Linked DNA regions of Homo sapiens: regions 1 and 2 are each linked to region 3. The links come from fine-mapping of genetic effects on gene expression. A gene starts in region 3. Each other region holds a variant in brackets. All regions are shown on one strand. Distances are between the middles of the regions. Region 1 overlaps METTL22 (methyltransferase 22, Kin17 lysine). Region 2 has its middle 19 kb from the start of ABAT. Region 3 holds the start of METTL22 (methyltransferase 22, Kin17 lysine).

Region 1 (5,224 bases), 22 kb before region 3:
GAGAAGGAGAGAGACAGTGGGACATAGAGGATGACAGGAAGGGGTGGAGATGGGAGGAGAGAGGCACAGATGGAGAAGATAAAAAACCAGACAGACAGACATGTACACACGTGATAAGACAGAGAGACCAAGGGGCGGAGGGAAAATGAGTCCAGGCGGAAGGGAACACCTCTGAGGAAGATCACTGCACAAACCCTGGTCAGCTGCACATGACCCCAAAGAGTGGCTCTTAGGTTTATTCCAAACGTACCTGATTTGGGTGATAAAGAGTTAAAATTAAATACAAAGGCCAATGCCAGTCCATTCCTGGCGCCAGCTCCTGCCTCTTCCTTCTCATGGGGCCCTCACCAGAGTGATGGGGTGGAGCATACCCAACCCTGGGAGGAAATGAGGCTTTTGTGCCGAGCGGCAATATGATGGCAATACTGGCAGTGGTAGTCAACCCATCTGTAAACAGCTGACAGAGGGCAGTACAAGAATCCACCTCACAGCCAGGGCCGCAACCGCAAGTAAAGCACACAGCTGAAATGACTGACGTGGGTGGAACTGAGCTGAGAAGGAACGTGGCTCGGCTTGACCCTGGAGCACACATCACAACCATGAGAAACAGGCAACTAAAGTGACCTCCAGCCCACAGCAACAACCTTCTCTGGCTACAACTGGGAGGCAGGGACAGACCCCAGAAAACCATCTTGGGTCATCTAAGGTACGTGTAACCATATTTTTAAAATGACAAAATCTCAAGCATGTTGCTTTGGTGAGCTTCTGATTTTACTAGAAATACACTCTAAGAACAGTCGAGACGCCGCGCCTTGTGGAGGCGATGGGTCATGTTACTGGTTCTGCGATGATCTTCCAGAGCTCCTGCAGCAAACAGAGAAAAGAACAGGTTTCTGAAGTGCACATACAAGAGCATCACAATTTCATTAAGGAAAGTGATTCACCAAGGAGAGTAGTTAGACAACACGTCAGCCACGGAGCAGGCGAGCTGGGGCAGGAGCGGACGGGCGGCTTCCTCCTTTCTTTGTTGCTCTGGGCTGTTCTATTTTACTGTGGCAGAGAGGCTGGATGGATGAAGTCCCAGCATTAACGGAAGGTGCATCAGAGGATGTCAAACAATCAGAAGAGACCAGAATAGCAGTGAGTTGCCGTATCTCTCCATTTTGGGGGAGATCTTTATAAACAATTTTATTTTAGAGACAGGATCTCATTCTGTTGCCCAGTCTGGAGTGCAGTGGCACCATCACAGCTTGCTGCAGCCTTGAACTTCTGGGCTCAAGCAATCCTCCCACCTCAGCTTCCAGAGTAGCTGGGACCACAGGTGTGCACCACCATGCATGGCTAATTTTTTTTCTTGATTTTTGTCGAGATAGGGTCTGTGATGCCCAGGCTGGTCTCGAACTCCTAGCTTCAAGCAACCCTCCGACCATGGCCTCCCAGAGTGCTGGGATTACAGGTGGGAGCCACCGTACCTGGCCTTTTTGGGACGTCTTAGGCATCATGTATTGGGGCTGCTGACTTGTAAGAAATGTGTGTTCTTGGTCATGTGACGCTACTCTTAATGCTGCCCAGAAGTGGCAGAGCAATAAATACAAGATCCTCCTCGCACACAAAACCACACGAATTCCATGCTGCCCTCCCTCAGGACGCGAGACAGAGTGCAAGGGCGGCAGCTCCTCGTGACTCCCTCTTCCTCCCTTTTTCCTTAGAACTAGGCCCGGGTCTCCACAGACATAGAGAAAGGGAGGCCACAGCCAAAAGGCAAACAGAACAAAAGAAGTTAATTCTCAATCTTTGGACTCCAGTTAATAGAAAAGCCAGTTCAGTCCGAGAGGGGCTGGTATCCTTCCACAGTGAAGATGTGAGCAGCGGCCACCACAGCGGGGCGCCTGCACCAAGATCTGCAACCCACAAACTTCCCTCCACTGACTTCCTGTTCCCCAAACAACCTCTGCCTCGGTCTTGCCTCCTCTGGAGTCTGAACTGTCCAACGGGGGGAATATGTGCTATAAAGTAAAAGACAAGGTTCGCCTGTAGGCCCGTCTCCAGACATGGTGGCTGCTAAGAACAGGATGTAGCTCCCCCAACAGGTTCCACTACAGATGGTGCCAGGCACGCAGGCTTCACCCCCTGCAGGACTAGGGTGGAGCCTGTGCTTGGAGGGCTTGCTTCATCACCTCTTTGCCCTGGAGTCACCCGCTTCACAGTAAAGCAACCAACGGCCCTGCTTCGGGGCCTGGACCTACCAGTTGCTGGAGGCGCTCGTAAACCAGGAGCTGTGGGAAGGAGGCCTCCACGGGCTCCACCACGAAGCGCAGCTTGCCATCTGCGAGCTGCTCCAGCGCGTGCAGGCAGGAGCGGAAGTGATCGTAGGCTTCACATGTGACGTCCAAGTGTCTCAATGTGAAGTTGAGCCTGCAAACCAGCCAGTCGGACGCACAAACTGCCATCATCAATGGGAAGGGTTTTGCTGTTTCTGCCCACCTTGCTTTCCTATCCCTCACTGATCTCATATCCCCTGGACGGGCTTTTACTGAGCGCCTGTCTCATGCTGAGTGTGTGAGTGCAATTCCTTCCTACATCTGCACGACAGCCCAGGAGGTGGAAGTGGATAG[C/G]ACTTTACAGATGTGGAAACAGGCTCAGAAAGCTCAGGTCACGTGCCCACAATGACACTGCTGGAAAGATCAAGACAGTCCTGCAGATCAACACTTGAGGACGCCCTCCAGGTCCTGCCTGCACCCAGCACAGAATCTGGTGCCTGGAGCTGCGCATAACTATCTGAGAAATGAATGAATGAGAGGCAGTGGCAGGGGGCGGTGCAGAGGACTCCGGGAGCACAGAGAACAGAGAGAAAACTGCTGGGAAGCTGGGGTCTGAGAGATTTCAGAGAGTGAGCACCTTCAGAAACAGGTCTCCCAACCCTGCCACTTGCCTTTCAAAACCTTAGTCTACAAGATGGTTTCACTTGAAATTAAAGCTCTTTGCCTTTTTCCCTTTTCTTTCCAAATTTTTTTATCAAGAAAAATTCCAGACATGCAACAGGAGTAAGAACAGTCTATGCTGGGCGTGGTGGCTCCCACCTGTAATCTCAGTACTGTGGGAGGCCGAGGAGGGCAGATCACCTGAGGTCAGGAGTTTGAGACCAGCCTGGACGACATGGTGAAACCCCGTTTCTACTAAAAATACAAAAATTAGCCAGGTGTGGTGACGCATGCCTGTAATCCCAGCTACTTGGGAGGCTGAGACAGGAGAATGGTGTGAACCCGGGAGGTGGCGCTTGTGCTGAGCCGAGATCGCACCATCACACTCCAGCCTGGGCTGACAGGGCAAGACTCTGCCTCAAAAAAACAAAAAAAACAAAACTGTCTAATGAACCCATTACCAGCTTCAGCCACTGTCCACTTCCAGCCACTCTGCCACCTTGGCTCTTCCCGGGGCCCCCTGCCCTCACTGAGTTATTAAAAAGCAAATGCCAGACACCAACCCATTTCCTCTGTGAAGCTGGAAATGTCAGTGTGTGTCTCAAGAAGATGAAGACCTCTTCAACTAAAGTTTAACAATCACCCTTTAACATCAAATATTCAGTATTCAACTTTTCCCAACTGTCCTGATGTTTTTCCTTTACAGTTTATGAAATCAGGATCCAAATGAGGTCTGTACATTGCTATTGCTCAGTGTGTGCCTCAAAGCAAGCCCTCGGTATTATTGGTATAAGTAACACTGCAATAAATATGCAAGTACATACAGCTTTGTACACAACCCTGAGTGTGAATTTCCAGATGCTGAATTGCTGGGTGAAGAAGTCTGTTTCGTTTTACAGCTTTTGCTGTGGATTCCGAACGATCTTCAGAAAAGCTGTGGACTACTGTTAAGTATTACAGGAGAATGTGTGTAGCTATCACAAGGTGGGCACTCAATAAATGGAACCTAACATTTCAGGATATTCTAGTGGAAATGTCTGGGTGAGGCTGTTGGGTGAGGAGCTGTCCGATTCAGCAAGAGAAAGAGACCTGGGGGAGCTGAAGAGACAGACGGCACCACAGAGAGAACATTCAGGAAGAGAAGCTCTCAACAGTGTGTGCTGGCCAAGCGTTGAGGTTCCAGTACAGTCTGCATTCAAGTCCTTGTCTATCACTAACTAGCCGTGCCCTGGCCAAGGCCCCTGATGCTTCCCAGCCTTCCTCTCTTCATCAGTCAAGTGGGACAGCAGCGCCTGCACACAGGGCTAGGATGCAGATTCAGTGCAGTAACGTACACAAAGGATGAGCACAGACCTGGCACATAGTAGGTGCTCAATAAGTGGCACTGAGTAACAATCATAATGACACTGACAAGGACACAATTAGGAGGTGAGAGTTCCGCTGACACTCGGGACGTCAGCACGGTTCCCGTGGCGCAAAGCTCACCTCTTCTCCACCGACAGTATGGCTGTGCAGGCATTTTTCAATCTGTGGGCGAGTCGGGAGAGCGTTTTAAACACAGCATCAGTCAAGTCGTCGTCGTAAAACACTGTGGGAAGCAAAAAGGCCAGCATTAGAGGAAAACACGCAAATATTACAGAAATCGACTTTTCAGAGCAATCCGCACAGAGAGAATGCTTATCACCACGGAACAGCAGCAGCTTCCAGAATTAAAACTGCAGATGTGGTGGCATGTACCAGAAAGTCACTTCTAAAACTGAACTCCCGGGGGAAGTGAGGAGAGACTGCACTTGACTTCATGCTACAACAAAGGACGTGTACGGCGAAGGAGAAATTTTCTTACCTTCGGCTGCAAACAGGATGGTGGTGTGATCGTACAAGTCAGAAATTTCCTCTTGTGACCAACTGAAGGGGACCTTGGGATCTAAGAAAGAACAAAAGCACACTTTGTGCCCATTGCCTTCTCTCCTGGCCACCAACTCTCACTGGGACTGACCAAAAGGCACTTCAAGAGAAGAAACAGGGCTGGGGGTAGCTCGGTGCAGTGGGCACCACCAGGCAGACCAGACTCCCTGCTTCAGGCCCACTGCTGCCCGGGTGCAGAGTCATGGTGGAAGAGGTGCCTTTTCTGCTGAGTGTCTGCTCTAGCCAGTGAGCAGCGGGCGGATTTCAGCCTCACCCGCTGCCTTGGCCTGTGGCCCAGTGCAGGACATGATCTCCCCCTTCTGCCTGCTGGGTGGCCCAGGAAAACAGCCTCAGTTTTGCACTCACAGAAAGGGCACAGTACTACTTCCTCACAGGAC
Region 2 (5,224 bases), 34 kb before region 3:
CTGGAGCCGAGGAGCAACCGGGCTTCAGCCAAGATCTTTGAGATTGAGCCTGGGGACTTCCTCCCCATTCCCTGTCTCCTTCAGCTTTGCAGTGGCTTGTAGTGTTTCTTTACCATGAGGTGCACATTTCTGAGCCTATATCCCTTGGGTTCTGGATGAGTTTGCTTTGGTAACAAATGACCACAAACTGGGGGATTAAAACAGTGGAAATGGATTATTTCAGTTCTGTAAACCAGAAGTCCGCAATCAAGGTGTCAGCAGGGACTCACGCCTCCAAAGGCTCAAGGGGAGGGTTCTTCCTTGCCTCTTCCAGTTTCTGGTGATCCCGGGTGCTCCTTCATGTGGCAGCATCACTCTGATCTCTGCCTTCATAGGCCATCTTCACTGTGGTTCTCAAATCTCCCTCTCCTTTCTCTTATAAAGACATCAGGGGCAGAGCACGGTGGCTCATGCCTATAATCCCAGCACTTTGGGAGGCCAAGGTGGGAGGATTGCTTGAACTCGGGAGTTTGAGACCAGCCTGGGCAACATGGTGAAACCCCGTCTCTGCTAAAAACAGACAAAATTAGCCAGGCATGGCGTCACACGCCTGTATCCCAGCTACTCAGGAGACTGAGATGGGAGGATAGCTTGAGTCCAGGAGGTTGAGGCTGCACTGAGCTATGATCACACCACTGAACTCCAGCCTGGGTGACAGAGAGAAACCTTGTCTCAAAAAAAAAAGAAAGAAAAGAAAAGAAAAAAGAAGGACACCAGTCATTAGATTTAGGACCCGCCCTAAATCCAGGACGACTGTCAAGACCCTTAACTTAATTAGATCTGCAAAGACCCCTTTCTCAAATGTTTCCAAGTTTCCCATTCATAGGTTCTGGGGTTTAGAACGTGGACATAGCTTGTTTAGGGCCACCATTCAACCCACTATAGTTTCAAAAAGGTGGAAAACATCCTTTGTCTTCAGTTTCTCAGGACTGACTGAAATTGTTTTGAACTCCATATAGTAGACGAAAAGGAACCTGGTTTTATGGGGGACAAGTCTTCCTGCCTTTAGTTAAAGAGGGACAGGACAAAGGCTGAAACCACAGGCAAAGCTATTGTTGGTGTTTTGCAAACTTCAGCCCCCAAGATCACCATCTTTGTGACATTTGCTATTCCTGCTTCCCACTTACATTATTACTTAATATTGTATTTAACTACGCACAAATTATTAACTTAGCCTCAACCGAGAATAATATCCTTCATGTCCCTGGTTTTCAAATGCAAGATACATTTTTCTCCCAGAATACACAAAACAGGGCATGATGGTGTGGTTCAACAACTGGACTAGCTTGGAGGGTGACTTCAAACAGGTTTTGTGAGGTCTTGTAATGACATCGATCCTCCCTGAAGTGGCATCTTCCTCTCTTATCTTGCTGTAAGAAGGGCTCAGCTGTGGTTTAGATGTCTGTTCCCTCCCAAACAACTCATGATGAAGTGTATTCCTATTGTAACAGTATCAAGAGGTGGGACTTTTAAGAGGTGATTAGGGCAAGAGGACTCTGTGGATTAATCCTGTTATCACCAGAGTGGGTTTGTCTTCTCGGGAGTGGGTTCCTTATAAAAGGACGAGTTTGACCCATGTTTACTTCTCTCTCGTTCTCATCCTCTCTTTACTGTTCTACCATGTGGCGCCTTCTGCTGTGCTATCATGCAGCAAGAAGGCCCTTGCCAGATGCTGGCCTTTAGCTCTTGGACCTCCCAGCCTCAGAACTGTGAGCCAATACATTTCTGTTAATTACGTTACCCAGTCTGTGGTGTTCTGTTATAGCAGCACAAAATGGAGTAAGACAGCTTCCTGGGTTGTCAGGAGGGCATTGGAGCCGCAGGGCACAGCCCAGCCCAGGCCAGCACTGCTGGAACATCACTCACTGCAGATGAAGGTGGAGTGACAGGGACTGGCTGCTCTCCTGCTGAGGTAACTGGAGTCTCAAACCTCCTCTCCCATCTTCACAGCCCACACAGCTGTTTTCTCAGAAGCAGAGAATCTTACTCTGCAAGTTCACATTAGAATCCCTGTGTCCCAGGTTTTGCCTAGTGGCTGTGCTGGAGCTTAATCTTTGCTTCTCCAATAGTTAGTTGTGCAGTTGGTGCCTGAGGTCTACTCACGCAGGTCTGTGGGGGAAGTGGGGAAAAGGCCCTCAGGGTACAAATAAAATCATTTAGGAAGTGGGGGTGGAGGAAAGGACTAATCCCTGGAAGTGGCATCCTGCTACATACATGTCAATAGGATAAACTTCAAAATGCTTTTCTCTTAAAACCTCTCTG[C/A]GCCAGGAACAGTGGTGCACACCTGTAGTCCTAGCTCCTTGGGAGGCTGAGGTAGAAAGACTGTTTGAGCCCAAGCAGTTCGAGGCCGTGGTGCACTATGCTCATGCCTGTGAATAGCCACTGCACTCCAGTGGGCAACATGGCGAGACCTGTCTCTAAAACAACAACAACAAAAACCTGCCACATACCACTGGTATCCTAACTCGCCATACTTTGGAGAACACTGTGTTAGAGCAAAGATGTGGTCATCAGGAGAATTTACCTTGGTGGAGGGCATGGTGGTGAGTCTTCAAGAACTATGTCTTGTCAGAAGACACAGTCCTCCAAGCCAGAAAGCTAGGCATCACCCTCAGCCCTCTCCTCTTCCTGAATCCCCCAAATGCCTCAGAAATAAATCTTAGTTTGCACATTTAGGTGGATAATAGATTGAACGGCTTTGTTTAGAAGAGCACCTGGATGGAAGTTGGTGCTCAATGGACATCAGCTGTGGGTATGAGAACACGATCTCTGCATCACAATGCTGGCGGGCTTGCCCACTTCCTTCCAGATTCAGTGCCTCTTCAGGGCAAGGATGTGTCCTTTGCATCTCTCTTGTGGGCAGCCTCTGAGATGGTCCCCAGTGATCCCACCTTTGGGTATTCCCACTCTGTGTAATCCCCTCCCCTTGAGTGTGGGCTGGACTTAGTGACTCACTTCTGAAGAACTGAATGTGACAAAAGTGACGGAGTGTCACTTCTCAGATTAGGTTACCTCCCAGTAAACTCTCTCTATTCTTGTATGCTTGCTCTGAGAAAGCTGCTGTCATGTCCTGGCTTTATCAGAGGCCCCCTAGAGAGGCCCACATGGCAGAGAAATGAGAGAAGTCTGTGGTCAGCAGCCAGTGAGGAACTGAGGCCCTTAGACCCATAGCAGGTGAGGAACTGAATCCTGCCACCAACCACAAGAGGGAGCCTCAATGTGGATCCACTCTTAGTTGAACCTTCAGATGAGACCACAGCTGAACTCCTTGTAGCCTTAGCAGAGGTCTTAAGACAGAGGCACCCAGTTAAACTAAGCCCAGATTTATGACCCACAGGTACTGTAAGATAATAAATGTTTGTTGTCTTAAGCTTCTAAGTTTTGGGGTATTTTGTCATGCAGCAAATAGATAATACAGTTCCTTTCCCCAATGCCCCACACAGGGCTTGGCTTATTTTAGAGTCTTCTAACTATTGGGAAGAGGCCCAGCAGGTTTGAGTTACTCCCTTTTTTCCCTTCCCACATGGTGGCTGGATTTATGTCCACCTTCAGTTTGCTGCTATGTCCATTAGCGTTCTCTGTAAAAATGTAATGGGCTAGAAACATGGATAAAACTTATGGTGGAACTTCAGCCTTTAGTACAGATCACGGCCACACTCCCCTGGGTCTGGACATGACAAATTTCCCACTGGGGAACCAGACAACATGGAGTTCAGATGAGCCTGGCATAGTCTCATTCTATGCATTCTGAGGCTCAGTTGGAGGAGCACCAAGCCCAGGGTCTTGTAGCCCCAGACCCACCCAAGGGATGATTTGCCCTCTGAACTTTTCTCTGAGTCTTTCTAGAACCTTTGGGCTAAAATAAATTTTATTTCCCAAAAGCTTGGCTTGATCTATCTGTTTTCAAATACAGCTCTTGTTAGAGAGTAGCATTTTGGCTGTGTGTGTATGCATGCGTGCATGTGTGCACATGTACTTAATTTCTTTTAACTTTATTTTTAGTAAAAAAGACACAAAAATAACCCATGTTTGTAAAAACAAAATACATGTATATAACATAAAGGGCAAAGTCTCATCAATTCCATTCCCCCAATTCCATGCCCTGGGGTTAATCAAGGTTAACCATGTGGTATGTAACTTTCCACCTATAAACACATACCTTAGAGCTGCCATTTATAAGTTATGTGATGATGAGCAAATTACCAGGAGTGGTGAAGAGCCTGGGGGATAAATTCTTAGACTATAAAGCCAAACTTCTCAGGTTCAAAGCCTGGCTCTATCCCTCACAACTTATGTGACCTTGGGAGAGTTACCTGGCCCCCTTGCCTACTCCCTCCTTAGTTTACCCATCTATGAAGTGGGGCCTCACGTGAGTGGAGGGATATTTACTGAGCTAATGTATCTAAAATGTTTAGGACAGTTGGCTATCACCATCTCGATCCTCTGAGATCTCCCATTTTGCTTGAGCCTGTTTTTTCTTTTTTTGAGATGGGGTCTTGCTCTGACACCCAGTCTGGAGTGCAGTGGTGTACTCATGGGTCACTGCAATTTCAGCTTCCCACATTGAGCTTGGTTCTGAAGTCAGGCTTTCCACAAAATTCTTCCCTGATATCATCCTTCTTCCTGGGTTCTCACTACCCAGGTGTTTAGATATAGGAGATGGTCCCAGTGTTCCTGTCTCTAAGTCCTGGTCCTACTGAAACGTTTCAGTAGCTTGAGCCTTGGAAATGATGGGGAAGCAGGTTTAACTAACTGAGTCTTAGTTAATTAAGGCTTTACTATGTATGGTAGCTTTAGAATAAAGTTGGATTTTAATCATTACCACTCAGCCACTTAAAATCTCCAAATCCTTCCCATGGGAAACCAATTCAAGATCCACTTCAACCAGGCATCTAGTAATCAATAGAGACTGATTGCCTTATTAATTTGTACACTGAACTTTACTTGGCTTTATTTCCGCTGCCTTTAATCACTGATGAAAGAATAGTTTCTTCTTCCATGTTTTATACCCTTTCCATTCATCCCATCAATATTTTCCTGTCAACACAGAAGTCATCACTGAATGCCAGATAGGCCTGACAAGAGTGTGTGCCCATGTGGGGACAGAGATCGGTGCTGTCCCCAAGACTCCGAGGCACCTGACATCACCCAACTCCATAGGTCTCTTTCAATCTAAGGGGCTGAT
Region 3 (5,224 bases):
ATCATGCCTGGCTTAAAGCTCTGCTACTGAATTTAAAAAGATGAGTGGAATTAGGCGGGTGTCGTGGCGCGCGCTGGTAGTCCCAGCTACTTGGGAGGCTGAGGTGGGAGGATCGCTTGACACCAAAAGGCAGGGGTTGCAGTGAGCTGAGAATGCGTCACTGCACTCTGCACTCCAGGCTGGGTGGCAGAGCAAGACCCTGTCTCAAAAAGAAATTAAAAAAAAAAAAAAAAGAGTGAGTGGATTTAAAGGAAAAGTAGTAAGGGAGTCACTACACTGGTGATACACAGATATGGCAAAATTATGCAGGTGACACATTAATAACTAAAACTTGGAAAACCATGGCTGAGGCAAAGTGGTCAAGAACAGGTGGGACCTCCCTCCAACCGTTTCACCTAATCAAAAAGCATCATCAAACAGCAGTAGTCTGATGGGCTTTGAAGCTGGACAGACCAGGTGGGGATCCCTGGTTTCTCACCTTCTAGCCATGTGATTTCAGGAAAATCACTTCGCCTCTCTGCATCTGTTTCTTCAGCCACAATCTCACGCAGTGTTACTGGGTGGGTAAACTGCTGAGCAGAGTCCTTGGCTCACAGTAGGTGTTAATAAAACACCAGCAACCTCCTTGTCCTGGGGTTGGTTTCAGGTATTTGACCCAAACCTGCCTGTAACCCCTGACTGCCTATAGGAGCTGTTCCTACCTGGGTAGATGTCATGAAATCTTCAGGGCCCCCACTTCTTCAACTGCAAAATGAGGTCATCATGACTCAGGCTGTCCTAATGATCCCAGTACACTGCTGGAGTTCCTACATTTAAGTGGTTGCTGTGGGGCAGCAAAAGCTGTCCCAACAAAAAAATTTTTAAGAAAAAGATGATTCCTTATTCATCTCCATGCTAGCTTTCCTACTCAACACCATAAAGCCATCAAAATGCAAGTGGGTTGTAAAGAAAGTCTGTGAATCTGGCAAATCAATGCAGAATTTCATGGTGTCATTGAAAGTGATGGAGAAATGCTGGACCTGAAGGCCAACACTCAATCAATCGGACTGGCAAAACCACACCAGATTCCAGAAGAGAAAATACAGCTTATACCTACCACTCATTTCAAAGGCAGATCAAGCTCTCTCAGGACTTAGAGATGTCCTGGGGGAAAACTGAGGACTTTCACATACAGTTTTTTTTGAAGGGGGTGGGGAAGATCCTCTCTAATATTGCTGTAAAAATCAAAAGTGAACCAAAGGATGCCATTTCTTTTTTTGCCATAGCGCATTTTTTTTTTTTTTTCTGAGACAGAGTCTCACTCTGTTGCCCAGGCTAGAGTGCAGTGGTGCCATCTCGGCTCACTACAACCTCCGCCTCCTGGGCTCAAGTGATCCTACCTCAGAGTCCCGAGTAACTGGGACTACAGGCATGCACCACAATGTCCACCTAATTTTTGTATTTTTAGTAAAGATGGGGTTTTGCCATGTTGGCCAGGCTAGTCTTGAACTCCTGACCAAGGTAGATCCATCTACCTTGGCCTCCCAAAGTGCTGGGATTATAGGTGTGAGCCACCAGGCATGGCCTATAGCGCAATTTTGTTGGAAAACTTACATCCCAGAAAAATCAATGTTCTTTGCTTTTTCCAAAAGTGAGCATAATATTACACACCAAATTTTAAGTATAGACACACACAAAAAAACTCAAATTCTTAATCTCTAGTTGAATTTTCCATTTTTAAATTCAACCCAACCAGGCTTCCCAAGAAATGTACGCTGCAATGTAAGTTCCAGATGAAGGAGATTCCCTTTAAGTGGCTTTCCCTAGAATCAGCTATCTGGGAATAAGGAGGCCCTCTTGAACCTATCTCAGGCCCTCATATACTCAGAGGAGTATATGAGACAATTACCACTTTTCGGGCTTACGACATATAGTAAACGTTCAATAAGCAACAATAGTAAATACTATCATTATAGTAATATAATAATGATTAAAGTGAATGCTGGGAAGAAAGAAAAAAGGTAACAGTTTCTCTAGTCAGGAAAAGTCTCTTTCCGGAAATGCAGGGTCTGTATGGGCTTCGGGCTCCTCTCTTTACTGGGCAGAGCTGAGAAAGGAGACCCAGGTTGCAGATGGGGACCTGCCCCACCACCTCTCCATAGGGCTGCAGGCTCATCCCTGCAGCAGGAGCTAACGTGTTCTTGGCTCTTCTAAGGCTGTGGGGGCTAGACTGAGACGCTACCAGCTTTCTTCTCCTATAGGTCCCCAGTCAGTTGTCCCAAATAAGCAGTGTGCTGGGATCACGGTGTTGAAATAACTTCCCTCCTCATCTTTCTTTCTGATAACTGCAACTCACTCAACAATCAATAATTTGGCGCGATCCCATGACGATTTAGGCCAGGAGCTGGGGAGGGCAGGGTGTGAAGGCCCAGGCTGGGGGCAGGAAAGACGTGGCCTGGCCACGGTGCGTAGAGTGGTAGTGAGGGGCTCCGGGGACGTCCCCCGTGGGGCTACTCGTTCTCTTTGTCTTGTCGCCTTCCTGACGCCACCCTTGTGGGTTAACTATTGCCCTCTCAAAAAACAGTCACAGGTCGGGCACTGCCCTCCCTTCCTAATCTAGAACCGAAGGAGAGGTGCCTGGACCCAGGATGGAAACCCAGGTGAGGACGTGGACTTCTTTCCCCAACACCCGTGTTGAGAAGGGGAAACTGACGCTAAGAGTGGGGTCGGGCCTTAGGGATCTGGGCCTCCGATCTGTGGGAGCTCGGATTTCAAAGTCAGGCTCGGCGCCAGGAGGTTCCCTGCACCCTACCCTATCCCGCCGCCTCTCCCAGGCACTTACCCGCCGCGGGGCCCAGCCTGGGATCCCACCCGACTCCCGTCTCTGTGGGACTTAGGCGGCCGCCATAACAGGCGGTCTGCGCAGGCGCGGCCCCGCCCCCGCGTGCGACCATCCGACTGCCCCGCACCGTGGCTCCACCTACCTGCCCGGGCCGCGCATGCGTCCGAGGGTTGCCGGCGGGCACCTGTAGCCTTCGCTCTGGTCGCGGGCGAGGCGTGTTTGCTGGGGGGACCCGCCTAGGTGGCTAAACTCATTCCTCTAAAAGACTTAAATAGGAGTTAAATAACTCTCCCAGCTACTAAGTGGTAAAGCCTGGATTCGAACCCGGGGTGTGGGATCAGAGCCGGTGCTATTTAACCAGCATGCTACTGTATTTATTATCACGGGTGTTACCGTCATCCATGCTCTTAGTACTCGTTTGTTTGTTTGTTTGTTTATTTGAGATGGTCTTGCTCTGTCACCCAGGCTGGAGTGCAGCGGCGCAATTTTAGCTCACTGCAGCCTTGAACTCCTGGGCTTAAGGAATCCTGTTTCAGCCTCTCTAGTAGCTGGGACTACAGTTGCGTGGCACCATTTTTTTTTTTTTTTGTACAGACTGTATCTTGTTGTGTTGCCCAGGCTGGTCTCAAACTCCTGGCTTCAAGCAGTCCTCCTGCTTCGGCCTCCTAAAGCTCATAAATTACAGGCATGAGCCACCACGCCCAGCCAGTACTTGTTATTATTAATAGGTGGTAGTGATTTCATTAGGTGGTAGTGATTTCGTTAATTCGTATGCTCATCAAGTTTCCAACACCAAGGGGGTGAGACAGAGTGGCAAACATAAGACTCCATGTTTGCTCGTTTTTTCTTGCCTGCAGAATTTCAGAAAGCCTCTGAGTCCGTGACTGAGCACAGCCCTCAGAAGAATCCCCTGAAGAGGATGAGCAGGATAGACCACAGATTCTCACGTCTCTTGCCTGAGTCACTGCATTTTTAGAAAAAGTACAGTCAATAATATTGGCCCTTTTCTCAATCTATATATTCAGTGACATCATGGAAGTCAGCCTGGCCACAATGGAGTAAGCCAGGGGATGGGCCGCAGGAAACGAGGATACATAGGTAGCCAGGGTTAGAACTTTTGTGACATTCTAAGAACTTTGGATTTTACTGTGCGTGAGATGGGGAGCTGCCAGGGATATACACCACACTGACGTGTTCACAGACATGCCCAGACACACACAGTGGTGCTCACTCTCAGACATGTCAGTGAACATACAAATATACACACAGGAACATATGTAAAGTCCACATATGTAAAATCTATATCCCTGTGTGTTCACATATACACACACGCACACACATGGCCTCAGCTGGCAACCTTTGTCTAAATTACTTTTTTTTCTCTTTTCAAAATAGAATTAAATCAACATCAATTTCATGGTTACTGATGATAAAACGTGGAGAGTTGATAGGGTGACTAAGCGACACAAATAAGAATTTTTTTTTTTTTTTTTTTTAAGAAACAGATTATGTTTCCTGAAATCCCCCAGGACAGTACACAGAGAGCCAGTTGGGTGTCTTGGGACCAGATTCTATTCATAGTTTTCTCTCTAGTTCGCTGAGGGTTCTCTTAGTTATCCCCAGAGGATGTTGAGTGGTGGGGAGGGCACTAGGAAGGCATTGTTCACACCCTTGGGAGTTTTGTCTTCAAATTTAAACCGGGGGAATGACCCTTAAAAATCAAAAGATCACATTCCTCCTCTTGTCAAACCTATAATCTTTTATAGGGGATTAGTGCCCCTACAAAAGAGGCCCCAAAGAGCTGCCTCACTTCTTCTGTCATGTGAGGACACGGCAAAAAGACAGCCATCTATGACCAAGAATTGGACACAGAATCTGCCAGTGCCTTGATTTTGGACTTTCCAGCCCCTAGAACCATGAGAAATGAATGTGTTTATCAGCCACCCCATGTATGGTATTCTGTTATAGCAGCCCAGATGGCCCCAAAAGGGTTATCATTTCTGCCACAAATTTTGAGGTGGTTTGCAACACAGTAATAGGTCACCAGGTAAGGGGAAAGAAAGCCAGCCCTTCTTGGCAGGGCTGCAAAGAGATGGTAGCTGGGGGAGTGCGGGAGGGGGCCCTCAGTTCCGGAGCCTCAGTTATAAACAAGGCACACTGCTGGCCCCTTCATCTTGTGGTTTTGTTTCATTCTCACACCCATTCCGAAGCTCAGAGAGGTGAAGTGCCTTGCTCAGTGTTACCTAGCCAGTGAGACGCAGACTCACGTTTTCTTTTCTTTTCTTTTTTCTTTTTGACAGAGTCTCCATTTGTCGACCAGGCTGGAGTGCAGTGACGCCATCTCAGCTCACTGCAACCTCTGCCTCCCTGGATCAAGCAATTCTCCTGCCTCAGTCTCCTGAG

What was found. PIP is the estimated chance that this variant, and not a neighbour inherited with it, causes the effect.
Region 1: its variant is fine-mapped to the expression of METTL22 in whole blood (INTERVAL, PIP above 0.99).
Region 2: its variant is fine-mapped to the expression of METTL22 in skeletal muscle (FUSION, PIP 0.95).

What each region holds. Positions count from the first base shown.
Region 1 is chr16:8,641,748-8,646,971 of GRCh38, reverse strand. It overlaps METTL22 (methyltransferase 22, Kin17 lysine), which reads right to left. Exons shown (of 11, transcript NM_024109.4): 8 at 4,765-4,845; 9 at 4,407-4,509; 10 at 2,247-2,415; 11 at 1-864. The coding sequence ends at 829. Among named protein-coding and RNA genes, the nearest start is that of METTL22, 23 kb to the right of the region's middle. The variant C/G (reference allele first, on the strand shown) is at 2,616.
Region 2 is chr16:8,653,324-8,658,547 of GRCh38, reverse strand. It overlaps a transcript of METTL22 not described here. Among named protein-coding and RNA genes, the nearest start is that of ABAT, 19 kb to the left of the region's middle. The variant C/A (reference allele first, on the strand shown) is at 2,302.
Region 3 is chr16:8,619,373-8,624,596 of GRCh38, reverse strand. It overlaps METTL22 (methyltransferase 22, Kin17 lysine), which reads right to left and starts at 2,899. Exons shown (of 11, transcript NM_024109.4): 1 at 2,822-2,899.